2 separate regions of the Homo sapiens genome follow, and region 2 is linked to region 1. The links come from fine-mapping of genetic effects on gene expression. A gene starts in region 1. The other region holds a variant in brackets. All regions are shown on one strand. Distances are between the middles of the regions.

Evidence for each region. PIP is the estimated chance that this variant, and not a neighbour inherited with it, causes the effect. A credible set is the group of variants that fine-mapping cannot tell apart.
Region 2: its variant is the best candidate, but not a certain one, in a credible set for the expression of PLSCR4 in sigmoid colon (GTEx, PIP 0.86).

What each region holds. Positions count from the first base shown.
Region 1 is chr3:146,245,683-146,254,836 of GRCh38, reverse strand. It overlaps PLSCR4 (phospholipid scramblase 4), which reads left to right and starts at 3,732. Exons shown (of 9, transcript NM_020353.3): 1 at 3,732-3,877.
Region 2 is chr3:146,216,715-146,225,868 of GRCh38, reverse strand. PLSCR4 (phospholipid scramblase 4) reads left to right here. Exons shown (of 9, transcript NM_020353.3): 2 at 3,777-3,804; 3 at 4,944-5,054. The coding sequence starts at 3,798. Among named protein-coding and RNA genes, the nearest start is that of PLSCR4, 30 kb to the left of the region's middle. The variant C/T (reference allele first, on the strand shown) is at 3,593.

The DNA.
Region 1 (9,154 bases):
GAAAGCAAACGGGGAGCAGGTGTATTAATGGCAAGAGCTGGAGTGAGACAGAGAGGGGAGAGGACACACTCTTTTAAATAACCAGATCTCACAGGAACTACCAGAGCAAGAACACACTCATCACTAAGGCAATGGCACTAAGCCATTCACAGGAGATTCTCCCTTATAATCCAAACACCTCCCAACAGGCCACCTTTAACACTGGGGATTACATTTCAACATGAAATTTGGGAGGGACACAGATCCAAACCTTATCAAACAGTTATTATAAGTTAAAAAGTTAAGAAAATGATGGTCTTAGTGAATGAACAGATGTGAAATCTCATCAAAAGACATGGAAGCTGCACAAATGAACCAAATAGAAATACTAGCACTGAAAAGTGTTAATACTGTAATGGACTTAACAGTAGATTGAAATAAGGGTCAGCATATTTTTGAGACGGATCCATAGAAATTATTTAACTTAAAGAGAAAAAAATCAAAAAAATGTAAATAAAGTCTTGGTGAGCTGTGAGTCAGTATCATATGGTCCAACATACAATTAATTGAACTGAATTTCCAGAAGGAGAAGAGAGAGAAATGGGTATGGTGCAGTAAAGAAATAATGACTGCAAGTTTTTCAAATTTTGTGAATAATATCTACTTATGTATCTGTGAAACTCAGAAAACCACAGTAGAATACAGAAAGAAGCATACATCATAGACTAACTGCAGAAAAACCAATGATAAAAAGTTATTCTTAAAACCAACAATATGCATTCTGTCAGATAAAAATGGAGGTCAAAATTGTTGGGGAATAAAATAAAAAAAATCTGTACACCCAGAATTCTATAACCAGTAAAAATATCATTACAAAATTCATACAAAATAAAAACATTTTTAGATTTAAAAATCTAAAAAGATTTTGTCTGTAGCTGTTCTGCACTACAAGAAATACTAAAGGGACTAGGTATAGTGGCTCACACCTGTATCCCAGCACTTTGGTAGGTCAAGGCAGGCAGACTGCTTGAATCCAGGAGTTTTAGACCAGTCCATGTAACAAAGCCAAATCTTGTCTCCCCCCTCCAAAAAAAAAAAAAAAAATTAGCTGGGCATGGTGGCATGTGCCTGTAATCTCAGCTACTTGGGACGCTGAGGTGGAAGAATCACCTGAGCCCAGGAGGTCGAGGCCGCAGTGGGCTGAGGTTGTGCCACTGTACTCCAGCCTAGGCAACCAGAGTGAGACACTGTCTCAAAAATAACAAGAACTACTATAGGAAAGTCTCTAGCCTGAAGGTAAGTGATAATAGGTGAAATTAAGATCTATAAGAAAAAAAACGAGGAGCACAGGAAATTGTGTATATGTGGAAATATAGAAAAGCTATTTTCTTCTTTTAATTTCTGTAAAAGACAATGCACTAGTTAAGCAAAACTTAAAACATTTTGTTGTGTAAAGTCTATAATTAATGGGTATGTAAAATCTGATAGCATTTGCACATACAATTGAGGAACTGTAAAGTAATTATAAATTTCTTAACTTTATGTGAAGTGGTACATTATTAACTCTAAGTAGACTGTGGTAACCTAAGAACAACCAGTGAAAAGGAAATAACACGAAGAAATACACTTGGAGCAACAGAGCAACTAAAATGGGATTAGTATAAAAAGTAGTTAATTTGTCATCCCTCGAAATGTCCAGGTTGGAAAGTCATCAGATCAGGAAATTTCAGAAAAACAGGAAATTGAGTTCTTCTTCTTCCCCTCGAAAGTTGTGATTTGGGGTATATGACATACTTGATTTTATTTTAATCCCTCAAAGCAATATGTTTCACAAGACATGTTTTGCTCTTGAAATTTTTGGTATCTTCACGTGGCCACTGTGGATGTTTACATTCATAAGCTCAATTACTTGGCCTCTTTCATAAATTTTAAACAAAGGTAACATGCCGAGACCAGCTCAGTCGGGGAGACCCTAACCCAGCGGCGCTAGAGGAATTAAAGACACACACACAGAAATATAGAGGTGTCAAGTGGGAAATCAGGGGTGTCATAGCCTTCAGAGCTGACACCCCCGAACAGAGATTTACCCACGTATTAACAGCAAACCAGTCATTAGCATTGTTTCTATAGATGTTAAATTAACTAAAAGTATCCCTTAAGGGAAACGAAGGGATGGGCCGGATTAACTGCAGCAGGAACACGCCCTTAAGACACAGACCGCTCATGCTCATTGTTTGTGGCTTAACAATGCCTTTAAGCGGTTTTCGCCCTGAGCGGGCCAGGTGTTCCTCACCCTCACTCCCGTAAACCCACAACCTTCCAGCTTGGGCATTAGGGCCATTATGAACATGTTACAGTGCTGCAGAGATTTTGTTTATGGCCAGTCTTGGGGCCAGTTTATGGCCAGATTTTGGGGGGCTTGCTCCCAACAGTAACATATGCTATTATAATTTAGTTTCACCACCAGTTTCTTTGTTTTATGCTTTCAGTAAAACACTATGTCTGCATCTGAGAAATGTTCTGTGCAATTATTACTGAGAAGAACAGTATGAATTTTTTAATCTATTCTCACATGAATATTAACAAATAACACACATACAAAGAAAAATATAAAATTCTAGAACTCCACTCCCACATCCCTTCCCCTTTCCAACCTTCTCCCACAATGGGGTTCTGCCAAGTACTCCTCAGAGCTTAATCAAGCTTACTTCTGTCCAGTTCTGATTCTTTATAAGGTCAGAGGACCTTCAGTTCTCCCACTTCCTGTCAGTGTATTGTGCTTCTCTCCAAGCACCACCACAGAACTGAATCCCATTGGTCTGAAAGAAATATTTGTGCCTAACAGTAATAAGCAAATGGCATTTTTCTCCCAATGTCAGAAAACATGGGCAACCTGCTCCCTTTCCCCTTTATTGGCGTCTCTCCCGCCTTCCCTCCAAGATCAAATTGGCCTCCCCCAATTCTGTGGAAAAGAAAACAGAATTTCTGGGCCCTATGCCCAAGTGTTTCCAGCCAGCACGGCATTGCCAAGGCTAAATCACCAAGCCAAGGACCTGGGGGTGGGCGCAAATGCAAATCAAAAAGGCTCTTGAGGCCGGGTGCAGTGGCTCACGCCTGTAATCCCAGCACTTTTGGAGGCCGAGGCGGGCGGATCACGAGGTCAGGAGATCGAAACCATCCTGGCTAACACGGTGAAACCCCGTCTCTAGTAAAAAATACAAAAAATTAGCCGGGCGTGGTGGCGGGCGCCTGTAGTCCCAGCTGCTAGGGAGGCTGAGGCAGGAGAATGGCCTGAACCTGGGAGGCGGAGCTTGCAGTGAGCCGAGATCGCGCCACTGCACTCCAGCCTGGGCGACAGAGTGAGACTCCGTATCAAAAATAAAAATAAAAAAATAAAAAAGGCTCTTGAGAAAGAGGGGTTTCTTCATTTTCTCTCTAGGCGCAGTAATCTATGAACAAAGCTCCCTTTCCCAGGCCCTGCAACCTGCCCCTCTGATTGGAAGTGACCGTGGGCTGGCTTTTATCTTTTCTTTCACCTCTTATTAGAGTAGTGACAACTTATTTTCTTCATTTCTTCCTCCCCCTCGGCTTTTAGGTTTCAGCGGACTTCAGGGTGCCCCACCTCTTCCAGGAAGACGCTCCCCCGGGCTGGCGGCTCTCCCAGCGCGGGGCGGGGTCCGAGACGGGGAAGCCGCGCGCGGGGAAGGAGGGTCCAGGCGTGCCGGACCCGCCCCCAGAACCCGCGCCTAGCCCTCCCTTCCGCGCGCTTACTTTGTTTATAACTTGAAAAATCCTCTCCGTCTCCCTTCCCTGCCTCCTTTCCTTTCCCTTTCCTCTGCCAGTACAACTAGACCCGGCGTCTGGCGTCCCCGGTGCCCAGCATTCTGCGGGGCAGGCGGTGAGTGGGGCTGGACAGGCGGGCGCAGAGCAGGACAGGGTGGCGCGGGCGCCCGGGCTGCGGGGCCGAGGGCGTCGTCAGGGGAGGCCCGAGGCCGCGGTGCCTGCGGGCAGGCGCGGAGGTTGCGCGGCGTCCTGCGCTAGCAGTTCCCGGACACTGCGCTCGCGTCGCATCCTCAGGTGGTTGCAGAAGTTCCGTGGTGTCGGGCGCGCGTCTGCACTGCAGACGCAGAGGGTTTGGGAGCGAGCAGTTTCCTGCCCAGGGATGGGGGTCCTGGCTGCACTTCACGGGGGCGGCCCTTTCGTTTCGCTCTGCGTGACAGGTCTCGCTTGATTGGGTTTCTCATGGGTCTCTGGCGTTTCTACGGCGCGGCTCTCACGGACTCAGGCCAGGCCACTCGCAGGTAAAAACGCTATTTATAGTAACTTTTTAATTGCTCAGCGAGTGGAGGCGGTGACAGGAGAGAATCCCTCTCTCTTATTTCCAATTCTGGCAAACTGGGGCGATTTGGGGCTGTGCTTGATTTGTTTTTAAAAACGTTCATATTTAAAGACTTAGGATTTTATTTTGTGGCCTTATCTTCTCTTAGGATCTACAATTTAGTTTTTAATTTTATACTGCATTTAGAATGGAGCCACCAAAATAAGTACTTGTGAAGATATAATGCACCAAACTTGATACTGCTTAAAGGGGAATAGATTGCCTAATTTAAATTGCATTCTCCTGTAATAGTAATAGAACACAACCTCCATCTGTCTATCTGCTCTCATGGATAGCTGTGAAATACTAGCAGCATTTCCATTAAATTTGAAAAAGACAAGAATGCTAATCATTACACTCTGTGACATGGTTGTGAATTCTATGGGCGAGTGACAACAGGTAGGGGAACATATTATCACTTTATGCATGATGTGAGTGTATACCTTAATGTCCATAGGAAACACTGAAATTTGATGGGAAGCATAAGTGAATTTATCAAAGTTTCCAATTGCATCATACTTAATTTATAGAAGTCAGTTGATGTTTATACATAAACTAGATAATACAGTAAAATAAAGTAAAATTCAGTTTGGCATGAAATAACACACAATTGAGAAATTATTTTTAAGAAGATATAAAAAGGTATGTATGAGAATCCAATAAAATACATAACATTCTTCTAGGTAAAGATATCATTTCTCTAAAACAACGTATAAGTAGAATCCTAACTGAATATTTTTGTTACTGTTTTTAACTGTACTGTTTAGCTCATGTGGAAGAACAAACATATTAACGTTATGTATAATATATTACAAATAATAAAATACAAAATATATAATTATGTCTTATTTTATATATTATATATGATTTTAACATTTAATATTATACATACACACATATATATAGTGGAGACTTCTTCATATAATAAAAGGTGTTACAAAACTGTGGTGATTAAAAGACAGTGCAGTAGACCTACTACCAGATGTGTAAATGAAACTGAAGAGACATGGAAGAATAAAAGGAAAGCTGGCATTTGATAAGCATACATTTTAAATCACTGGGTGGGAAGAAGAAATAACATTTAATTGAATGTACTTGGACAAGCAGGAATTTGTTTGGGAAACCTAATAATAAAACTGGAACTTTTCCTCACTGTTAATAGACAAATGTAGTCTAGATGGCTTACTAGTTTAAATCTAAACATATGCAGCCTAAAAAGGGAAAAAGAAAGCCTGAATAGATATTTGTGCACATTGCATGTGGGAAAAGCATTTCTAAGCATAATACAAAAACCTAGACCCATTTAGGGACATGATTTTTATTAACATTTGCATCCCCCAAAAAAGATACAAACTGCGGACATTGTTAATAGAAAAAAAAAGATAATTTTGCTAATATACCTAGAAATCTTATTAATGACCTTCAAAATCAATGACCCAGTTAAGGATAAAAAGAGTCAACTCAAAGCAAAAGAAATGCAAATAATAAGCAGAGTGAATACTGTTAGCCACACTAATTATCCAAAACATATATGAAGTAAGACATCAATTTTTGCATTAATTTTACAAATTTTGAAAGTCTGATAACTTTAGGTGTTGTTGAAAATGCAGTGAGGAAAATATAATTTTACAAACTTTTAGTGGAAATGTGAATTGGTGAAGCTGTTTTAGGGTTAAAGCTGTTCAGATTTACAAATGTTCATTTACTTAACTGGAATTTATCCAGCAAAACATGCTCCCAAGTGTACAAATAAAAATCTCTGTCAAAGATGTTTAAAGTAGGATTGTTTACAATGTAGAAAACATGGATACAGCTCTGTAGCCATTGATTGGGAATTGGTTACATAATGTATGGTATATTCAAAGGTGGAATAATATACAGTTTAAAACATTGTAGCTCTAAATGTTCTAACTTGGAAATATGTCCAAAACATAAAGTTAAAACACAAAATGAAACAACAAGTTGAAACACTGTGTGTGTGTGTGTGTGTCTGTGTGTGTGTAGTGTAGTAATTATATTTTTGTAAATAATTTGGAATATAGGCTGAATTATATTGTGAGTAGTGATGTTTTACACACAGCCGAATTATATTATTATGAGTAGTGATGTTGTTTTACACATTTCTATAATGTATGCGTGTGTATAAGGAAAAATTGATAGTGATAGTAATTTATACAGAACATTGCCTTCTTGAATATATTAGCTGTCATTTACTACAGAAGAAATATATTTCACAAAACCTTTCATATTGTCTCATTTTTTTTCTTTTATAAGTGTCCTCTTTCAGCTGCTTCCTTTAAAATCCCCTTCCTTAATATTGATGTTTATGATGTTTATTGCAAGAACAGCAGTGAAGAATTTTGCTTGAGGGATTTCACAACCAGTTAACTTTTATAAACAAAAAATACAGCAATGTTCATACTCATATGTTCACCAGCATTGTGCTAAAATTCATTTTTATAGTACTCATTCTTCAGGATGAAAGAGATAGATATGCTAGTCCTTAAAAAGAAAAACATCTAAAGTTGGAAAAAAATTGTTTTTAATTGCATGGTAAGGCTGGGTGGCGGTAGCTCACGCCCGTTATCACAGTACTTTGAGAGGCAGGGGTGGGCAGATTGTTTTAGCCCAGGAGTTTGAGAGCAGCCTGGGAAACATGGCGATACCCCACCTCTAAAAAAATTTAAAAATTAGCCAGGCATGGTGGCACCCACCTGTAGTGCCAGCTGCTCAGGAGGCTGAGGTAGGACAATTGATTGAGCCTGGGAGGTCAAGGCTGCAGTGAGCCATTATCATGCCACTGCACTCCAGCATGGGCAACAGAAAGAGACCCTGCCTCAAAAATAAAACTGCATGACAAAAATGCAGTGAAGACAAATGATAAGTTTTGAAAAGATAATTTTAATATAAAATTTTAATACCTTTCATATAAAGAAGACAAATGAAAAGCTAACAAAAATGAACAAATGACAAACAGGCAGTTCACAGAAATAGAGTTGCAAATTGCTTTCAAACAAATAATAAAAGTGGCTCAGCCTCCTCATTATGAGATATATGGAAAATAAAACCAATTTTTTTTTTTTATATATCAGATTGACTACTACAAAAATGTTGATAAAATACTGTATTAGGAATGTAACTTTTTGTCTGGGGTCTAAATTGATTCAAATTCTTTAGAGTGCAGTTTGATAGTATCTTTAAAAATGTACAAAACTTTGATCCATCAGTTCTGCTTCCAATAATTTAATGCACAGATCCACAGGAAGAAAATATTTTTTTCAGCATTTTTGGTAATAGCCTAAATTTGGAAACGATTTAACTTGTTGTCATTAGGCAGCCAGTTAAATACATTATGTTGCAGCCATTAAAAAGAATGAGGTTATATGGACTGAAATGTAATTAACATCAAGACATTTTAATAAATGAAAAGAAAAAGACACAGAAAAGTATATAGATGATTGCCATTTTATAAAAACTGTGTGTATTAGTTTATATATGCTTAGAAAATCTATTGGAGGAAAAAAAATCTAATGTCTGTGGTTGCCTTTTCAAATGGGAAATGGGAATTGGAGTAGGTGGGATTTTTTTGTATAAATGTATTGTGTAAATGTATGCACTGCCGACTCCTTGAATTATATTTGTGTTTGTTTGCACATAACATCTGTTTTTTAAAAGTCTGTTTTCATAAATGTAAAGTTTCTTATCAAAGTGACTTAACTGTATGCAACATGACATCTTGTTTTACTACAATTTTAAATACTAAAAGACTAGCTGTAAAATGACACAATGAGGCGTTCTTGGTAATCATAGTTGGCATGGTAATGTTTCCTTAATGTCTTATATAAACATCATGAGAATATTGTTCTGATATTTTTCTACTCTAAATAACAAAAACATTTCCCTTTTGAAAGCTAAAAAGGAGACACCTGATATTCTCTTTAAACAATTTGAACTAAATTAATATATTTAATAAAGGTTATGTATGGACTGTGGCTATCAATTTGCTTTCATTTAATCTTATCTTTTATTTTATATTAAAGCCAAATAGCTAACCTCCAAGATCCTTCACACTTGCTAAAAAGAATGAAATATTCTACCATACACTTTTTCTTTTGAAGGAGTCATGATGTTAATAAAATAATAAATATATTGATATAGGTTATAAAAACAACACAATAAAAATCTTAGGTTTTGCCCTTGTAATTTGTTGAACATTAATCACTCCCTAAGTTTCTTCTAGAATTGATTTTATGCAAAGATACAATTAAATACATATATGTTAACATGTAATTATAATGAAGATACTGTGTATCTATGGGACATTCCTGCTGCAGCATATTTTATCAACATGGACCTAGGTTTATCTTTTGTGCAAGCCTGGAATTCGTTTCTCTAATTTCAGCCCATGTGACAGAAACTTACTAAGTTTACAAGATGTCTACAGAAATGACTGAATCCTTCAGTCATTGGACTTTAATCCACTCATATTGAGCCCACTGAACTATCCAGTTCCCTATAGCCAAGAAACCCATAAAAGTAATTAACACAGTCCACCATAGGAGCCAAGAAATTTGGCTTAAAGTCTATAAAGAGGATTGTACTTGGAAAGGTGTGCATAATATTTCCTCTTTGATGAACATGCAGGTCTTTTTAGTTACAGATTCACTACAAGAGAGTACATTGTCAGGTTTTAAAAATTATTTTAAAAACTCAGTTTATATAATTTATTATACATTTATTGTAGAAAATTTAAAGAGGAAATGTTTATATCTTAGCATGTTTCCTCCAGTTTCCATA
Region 2 (9,154 bases), 29 kb after region 1:
CCCCTTTCTGGGCTGGCCAAGGCTGGAGCCCACTCCCTCAGCTTGCAGGGAGGTGTGGAGGGAGAGGCGCCAGCGGCAACCGCGTGCGGCGCTTGCGGGCCAGCTGGAGTTCCGGGTGGGCGTCGGCTTGGCGGGCCCCACACTCGGAGCAGTCGGCCAGCCCTGCTGGCCCCGGGCAATGAGGGACTTAGCTCCTGGGCCAGTGGCTGCGGAGGGTGTAGTGAGTCCTCCAGCAGTGCCAGCCCACCGGTGCTGTGCTCGATTTCTCACCAAGCCTTAGCTGCCTTCCTGCGGGGCGGGGCTCGGGACCTGCTGCCTGCCATGCCTGAGCCTCCCACCCCCTCCATGGGCTCCTGTGCGGCCCGAGCCTCCCCGACGAGCACCACCCCCTGCTCCACCGCACCCAGTCCCATCGACCACCCAAGGGCTGAGGAGTGCAAGCGCATGGCACGGGACTGGCAGGCAGCTCCACCTGCAGCCCTGCTGCGGGATCCACTAGGTGAAGCCAGCTGTGCTCCTGAGTCTGGTGGGGAAGTGGAGAGTCTTTATGTCTAGCTCAGGGATTATAAATACACCAATCAGCACCCTGTGTTTAGCTGAAGGTTTGTGAGTGCACCAATGGACACTCTGTAACTAGCTGCTCTGGTGGGGCCTTGGAGAACCTTTATGTCTAGCTCAGGGATTGTAAATACACCAATCAGCACCCTGTGTTTAGCTCAAGGTTTGTGAGTGCACCAATGGACACTCTGTATCTAGCTGCTTTGGTGGGGCCTTGGAGAACCTTTATGTCTATCTCAGGGATTGTAAATACACCAATTGGCACTCTGTATTTAGCTCAAGGTTTGTAAATACACCAATCAGCACCCTGTGTTTAGCTCAAGGTTTGTGAGTGCACCAATCGACACTCTGTATCTAGCTGCTCTGGTGGGGCCTTGGAGAACCTTTGTGTCCATACTCTGTATCTAACTAATCTGATGGGGACGTGGAGAACCTTTGTGTCCATACTCTGTATCTAACTAATCTGATGGGGACGTGGAGAACCTTTGTATCTAGCGCAGGGATTGTAAATGCACCAATCAGTACCCTGTCAAAACAGGCCACTCGGCTCTACCAATCAGCAGGGTGTGGGTGGGGCCAGATAAGAGAATAAAAGCAGGCTGCCCGAGCCAGCATTGGCAACCCGCTCGGGTCCCCTTCCACACTGTGGAAGCTTTTTTTCTTTTGCTGTTTGCAATAAATCTTGCTGCTGCTCACTGTTTGGGTCCACACTGCTTTTATGAGCTGTAACACTCACCGCGAAGGTCTGCAGCTTCACTCCTGAGCCAGCGAGACCACGAACCCACCAGAAGGAAGAAACTCCGAATACATCGGAACATAAGAAGGAACAAACTCCAGATGCGCCACCTTAAGAGCTGTAACACTCACCGCGAGGGTCCGCGGCTTCGTTCTTGAAGTCAGTGAGACCAAGAACCCACCAATTCTGGACACAATACTACATGTATTCTCCAGTGATTTGCTTTTTCTGTTGTGCTATAATTTTGAGATACATCTCTGTCCACGTGCACAGCTATAATTTGTTTTCACTACAGGATATTATTGTATCATGTGAATGTACCAGAATTTATTTATTCAGTCTACCATTGATGGACATTAGGCAAGTTTTCATTCTTTTAAATATGAATAGTGTTATCAAGAACATTCTTGTCTATATCCTGTGTGCATGTGCAAGAGTCACTTCCAGGTACATAACTAGGAGTGTCTAAATTTCTAGAAAGCTGTAGTCATTTTCCTTAACAACAGGGATTACCATCATTAAGGAATATGACTAACCCCTTGAACTCCTTTTACTGGCCCAGAATTGGGTCTGACTTTTTGGTATGCCCCAGAATAAATAAATAAATAAATAAATATTTATTATTTATAATTATTATATATTTGTATTATTTTATATTTAAATATTAATATATTTAAAATATAAATGTAAAAATATATAATATATATTAAATATATATTTAAAACATTTTTACATAATATATATTATATAAAAGTAAATATATATGTTTTAAAATATATTTATATGTATTTTTTAAGCTTGGAGACACATAGGGCACCGTACAACAAACTCCAGCTCCAGAGGTGAGTGGAGATGGTCCAAGACTGGTTAAACTTTCACCCGTCTTGGCAAGACAATCATTTCAGCTGGGAATCTGCATACTGGCTCGTACCATGGCAGTTTTCATTGAGTCAGCTCAGTGTCCATATTGATGACTCACTAATACGTTGTTTGAATGCTTTTTTGACCTACTCTAACTTGATACTTTTTTACTCCACTTGGACAACGCAAATGACTGTATTCTTATGAACATGATCACATATTGAAAAGTACATAGGCTTAGGATTTAGAAGCACTTGCCTTTAGCAGGGTTGGCCATTTACACATTAGAGAGTTGTTATAATCAGAGATATGTGAAAAGAATTGGGCCCTTTGCCTAACACTTGATAAGCATTCAGTAAATTATAGCCTTTGTTGATACTCTTTTTGTTATTTGTCATTACTCAGAACTCAGAAATTCAGATATATTGAAATTCCCTTCTCAAATAATAGCCTTTTTTTTGCCTGACTGAATTCAGAAAAATTTACCTTCACCCTCATTCCTTGTTTCAAATCTCGTCTCAACTTCTAGTCTTCTTCTTTGAGTTATTCTCATAATGTTCCCATACATATTTTTAATTTAAATGTTTAACTTCTTTTAGTCTCTTCTTAAACATGCCCCAGTCTAAACTTTCAATTCTTACCCTCCTCCATCCCCACTATTCCCCCACTATCCTCCTCTCTAGTTTTGTTAATAGGATCACCGTCAACTCAGTTACCTTGGGCTATGACTCAGAACCCTCTTCCACTCCTCTCTTTACCTTAGTCCATCAGCGACTCCTGGAGGCCCTGCTTCCAAACCGTATCATGCCTCTGAACACTCCTAACCTGCAGTGTCACCTCCCCCATCTAAGCTGGTGTCAGCTCTCACCTGGATTGCTGCTGCCATCCCTCACTGCTCCCTGCTTCTACTCTTGCTCTCATTGTATGATGTCGGTCAGATCTGATCACTCCACCGACTGAATCCTCCAGACTTCCCAGTTGCAAATACCAAAAATGCCAAACCCCTTGCCATGGCCTTCAGATGAGATCAGACCTTTATCTGCATGTCTTACCTCAGTTCGCTTCACTCACTGTGGCCCAGTCACTCCTAAACCACTTTCTCTTTTCCTCCCTTCAGTATCCCATGCTCACTGCCATCTCTGACCCTTTGCACTAATTTCCTATCTTCCTGGAACTCTCTTCCCACAATTGTAGTGTGATGTTTATTTTTCATAGTTGAAACAGCTCAAAGGTCACTTCCTGAGACAGGCTTTCCCTGACTCTCCTAGAACTTACCATCCGTGTTTCTCTTAAGCTTGTTACATTGTTTTCCTCATAACTGTACTATCTAACGTTAAACTTTAACATTTCTTGACTTTTTTTAAATCTCATTCTACTACAATATAAACTGCAGCACAGTAGGTGGCAGAGTGTCTGTCTGCTTCATTGCTGTACTCT[C/T]AACATCTGTATTAGTGCCTCGTACATAATAGGTGCTCAATAAGTATTTTTTTAATTAATGAAGGGACAAATGTAAGGTAACTGGAGGTTAAAAAAATTACAGAAATCCTTACCTGTGTTACTGAGTAGCAATACTATTTATTATGTATGTATTTTAAAGGCATTAACATTTTTTATTTTTCAGGATTAATTGGAATTCTTCAAAATGTCAGGTAAGTTTTTGTGAATAAATTTGAATATGCTTTATTTTCAAATGTGAATTTTGTGATTATTTTCCCTAAAGGGGGACTTTATTTCGATTTTTTTTTGTTTAACATTTGGCAAATATAAATACGTGTGTGTGTTTGCATATATATATGTATGTATATATTTGTTATTTATGTATATAGACATTCCTATCATTGTCAGAAAAAGATTAAAAAGGGACTTACAGTGGGACACATATCTACTGAATAATCTTTGAAGTTTGTGGGGAAAATTAGGTAATAAAAAAAGCAAGATTTGCAAAGCAGTTCTGCAAAGAGAGGTTGTAGTAATAAAGAGCCTGTGGCAAGGTCCTGCCTTGGTAGAGGAGGATGAAAGTAGGCCTTGTATTTTCTAGTAACTTACATAAAGAGAGAAAAACCACATTTATGGGATTTTTGTTTGCTAGGAGATAAAAGTCAACTGGTTGTTTAGGAAACTCAGCTTTTTTTTGTAGTAAGCAGAGAGAGAAATTAGTCTCTAATCTCAATAAGAAGACAAGGTACAACATCATGAAACTGACTTCAGTACCTCCCTTGCAGCAATTACTGTGACCTAGATTGCTTTTAGAAAGAATACAGTGAAAATGTGAGTCACTGGAGATGTAGACTAAACTATTGCTAATTCAGTTGTGTGTGACACCACTGTTTATTAAACCATTATTTGTTTATGGTGTTATGTTGTGAATCTTTTTAGACAGCACTTTCCAAAAATAATTAGGAAAAAAAATCAACTTCACTCTATAAATGCTTGTGTTCTCCATATTATGTAAAGGGAAAAATAATTTTTGCTATTATGCCAGGAATTTACTTTGTAGATAAGAGTTAGCATCGGGGCAGTTGAACCACTAGTATGAAAGCTCATTGCTTTGATCACAAGCATAATATAATTGTTTAGTTCTATTTTTAAATCTATGTTCAGTTTGAAAATTCATGAAATTTATTAATAGTGTCTAATATATGATGAATTCTTTCTTTAAAAAATATAGGAGTGTATTTTCCAGTTGATTATATTTCTTGATGCATTCCCATAAGAAAGGAAAAAGAATACATTTTGTCATTATATTATTGTTTCCTTTGTAAGTCATGTTCCCTGTCTTCCCCTGAAGGTGTGGTACCCACAGCCCCTGAACAGCCTGCAGGTGAAATGGAAAATCAAACAAAACCACCAGATCCAAGGCCTGATGCTCCTCCTGAATACAATTCTCATTTTTTACCAGGTGGGTTAAATATTCATAAAAGATATTCTCCTTTGCTAAAAACCATACTAATGATTAAAATTGCTTTTTAAGCGAACAAATTAATTGACTGATTTAATAAGTAAATAAATATTGGATGCCAATAGGGTGCCACATAGTTTACTATATGTCAGTTAGAATATATTCCTGTAGCCATAGGATTTACAGGCTTTTAGATGGAAGTTGTGCAAATATTGATGACATTCTCTCCATTCTATATGGAGATATGAAGAGAGTGTTGTAAGGACACAGAAGACAGTATTTGACATTGCCAGGGATTTGAGGAAAGCCCTGACTAAGGAGGTCAAGTTTTGCTGTCATGATAAAAATTTCACAAGCAAAGAAAAGGGGGAAAGGACTATCCTTAGCAGAAAGAATCATATGTCCGTAAGTACAGGGTCATGAAAATCTGGTATGAGGCATGCATGAGACACATGGAAGATGTGCAGAGAAATGGAAGTGAATGGCCATGGGTGCTGATTAAGGAGCTTATCTTTCTGGCAAATATTTTTGTAAGTCTGAGTGCACTACTGGTGATGTCTTGGGAGAATGAATACTTTATACAGTGCTAGTGTGAATTTGAGATATTATGATTGTTAGAAAACAATTTGGCCAAGTTTAAAATTTTAAAAATTAAAAGTGCCCTTACTTTTGGCCAAGGAAATAGTTAGTATTGTCTTTAAACACATTTTAATGACTTACATAATGATGTAGACACTGTAGTAATATTTTTTTAAAATACATATTTAAGCGTATATTTAGAAGTAGAAACCATTGTGTTATGCTCTGAAGGGGGAAAAGAAACCCTGCTATGTACAAGATAATGGCACAAGATAATGGCAAAAGTTTTTTTTTTGAGATGGAGTTTCAGTCTTGTTGCCCAGGCTGGAGTGCAATGGTGCGATCTTGGCTCACCACAACCTCCACCTCCCAGGTTCAAGTGATTCTCCTGCATCAGCTTTCGGAGTAGCTGGGATCACAGGCATGCACCACCACGCCCGGCTAATTTTTGTTTTTTATTTTTTGTTCTTTGTTTTTTGTTTGTAGAGACAAGGTTTTTCCATGTTGGTCAGGCTGGTCTCGAAGTCCCGACCTCAGGTGATCCACCTGCCTCAGTGTCCCAAAGTGCTGGGATTACAGGTGTGAGCCACCGTGCCCGGCCAAAGGTTTTTTTTGGCTCTAGGCATATGATCCATACAGCTCAGGTGGCTTCTGCACCTACAGTGTTTTCTGAAAGCATCAGGATTTCCTTTTTTCTCTTCCTAATGTGTATGTGTGTTATGAGGATAAAATGCATTATAACATACTGCATTAATAGCGCAACCTTTCCTAAATCCAAGGTATTAAAAATTAAATTATTAAATTATAATCATGCTTTATCTATCGTTTCTCTATATGTCACTTCAGTGACTTCCAACATGATATACAAGATCTATCTTATATTTACCAATTACTCTATATCCAAAAACCTAGACCCTACTAGAACAGAAACTTCACCATTTCTGAGAAAAACCTTGGTTATACATCATGTTCTCATCTGATAAAGCGTATGTCTATTCTTCTGTATATCAATAATTCAGCAAGAGAGTAGGCTACATCCTTCAAATTAAATGACAAGGTAAGTTGTAAAAATATTATAGTGCAGACCACACAACTAATGAATTTTCAGTTATAAAATATAGCAAAATTTCGCTCTGATCGCCACCTGGTGGCTGGACTATAAACTTACGAAGACTGACAAAAATTGTCTCTGTGACTCAAATTAAGAATCTTGAAATCTGTACTTGAATTATGTAGTGTTAATGAATTTATCCCAATTTCTTTACATAATTCCAATTTGCATTATGGTGTTGGATATGTGTTCCCACAAAAATAATTTTATCCACTATTCTTGTTTAAGAGAATAAAGAAACCTTTGTTATATTTAGTATATTTAAAGAGAAAATGGCATGATTTCCTGATGTTCAAAATAACTAAAAAAACTCAAATCCTATCAGACAGTGTGTCTTACACCAGTATTGGTAGGACAACGCTCCGTAACAGAGGTCTTTATTTACGTAAGTCTGAGATGCTATAGTTACACAAAGTTAAACATATTTTGTTTTGTTTTGCTTTGTTTTCCTGCAGAAGCAATCAGAACTCTTATGAAAACTTCAAAGCTTAGAAGAAAGTATAATATACCAATTTCCCACATATAATTTCATCATATGTTTTCCTTCTTTTATCTCTGGATAATACATACTTATAACAAAAATTGTTCAATTACATAAATATGTATTTAATTTTAAAATAAATATAAATTTAATTTTAAAAAATATAATCTCTATACGAATAGCCTCAAAATCTAAATGGCAATTTTTTTCTGATTTATTGATCTTCAAATTTTATAACATGAGGTGCTTTTATATTAAAAGTACATGGTAAATTAATCATTAACTCATTGAAGTGATATAATGATTAATATTCTTGAGATAATTCATATGATTTTTAGTTACATTGTTATTTTTAATAATAGTTAAAAAAAGAAGGTATGGATATCTGATTTCTAGTCCAATTCGGGTACTCTTAAATACAATTCTTAAAGGAATTAAAGTATATTCTTCATAACAAACTTAAATACATACTTACCTTCACTTTTTTCCAAATACGTTATACTTTTTTTCTCACTTAACTCTCATTTGACATTGTTTCCTGTTACCATTATTTTCCCTTTAGTCTGCTTACTGTCAGTTTCTGTCAAAAACTGTGTCCCTACTCTTAAAAAGTGCTGTTCTCAAAATTATTTGGTCTACTCCCCTGGTTTTCCCTGCCCTTCCCCATCTCCTTCTCTCTCCTCTCCCAGTCACCCTTCCTTTTACACACTCTTCTAAGTGATCTTGTTAATACTGAAGGTTTCCTTTTCCTTCATCACTTATGAAATACATATCCACAGATCATGTCAGTCTGATAGTCTCTAAACTTGCACTTCCAACCACCTATAGACTGCTTCTCATGAAAGACCATTGAATCTCAAACTCAATGATCACCAGCCCAACTTTGTTATCTTGCTTCTAAACTCTATTTTCTTTCTCCATTCTTCCCATACACTGGAGGCCTGTAGGATCCCAAGCCAGAAACTTGAGAATCTTTTCTCATATCCAGTCCACTTCAAAGTCAATGTTGTATCTTAAATGTCAATTACCATTTCTCCACTCTCTGCTCCTTTCACCAAAATCAGCCTTCCTTGCCTTCTAGCCAGACCCTTGCAAGTACTTCCTGCCTAATCTGACCTCATATATAAAGAATTCTAAATGTAAAATGAATCACTTTACTTTCCATTTGATTGGCATAAAGTTCAAGGTCTTTCATAATCTTCATCCTATCTTTCTAGCCTTGTCTGCTAAATCTCCACACACAGCAGTTCGTCCTGCAGTAGTGAGCCTCCTCTATGCACCTGCCTGTTCTTGTCCGTTTGCCTGTAAAACCTTTCCCCATCATGGAGATGCTGGCTAGGTCTAGTGTGTTAGCATCTATATCGTAGTATACCTTCTCTGCATAGGTTAGGTACCCCTCCTGTCTAATCCCTTAACATGCTATGCATCTACCTATGATTATGTCAATTACTTGCTTCGTGACAACCATTCACCTTTTCTTATACATCTTTGTAGCCTCCACAGAACTTGCTGCCCTTGGAGACAGGCATGCATTTGAATGTCTTTCTGTCTTATATTTCTAGCAGCAAGCACAGAAGCTGGTCCTTGAAATGGGCTTGAGGAATATTTCATAGATAAAAGAATCTTTGATTTATCTCATGGCCTTGTTTTCAGATAGTATTAGGAGAATTTCATGATTCATGACTATTATGAGTGGCATTTTTATGAGTAACCAAAATGTCTTAGACTTCATCACCTTCAAAGGCGACTGGCTTTTGCATTATTGGTTGACCCCAGACCACTGCATTGTCCCATGATGTCCCATGGAGGTGAAAGGGTAGAACTTAAGGACTTAAAAATAGCTGCTAGCTAGAGATGCCAATCCAGTGTATAGGCCCAAAGCCCTCCATAGAATCACGCCTGGGGTGCTCTTCTTCCTTGTCTCTGATC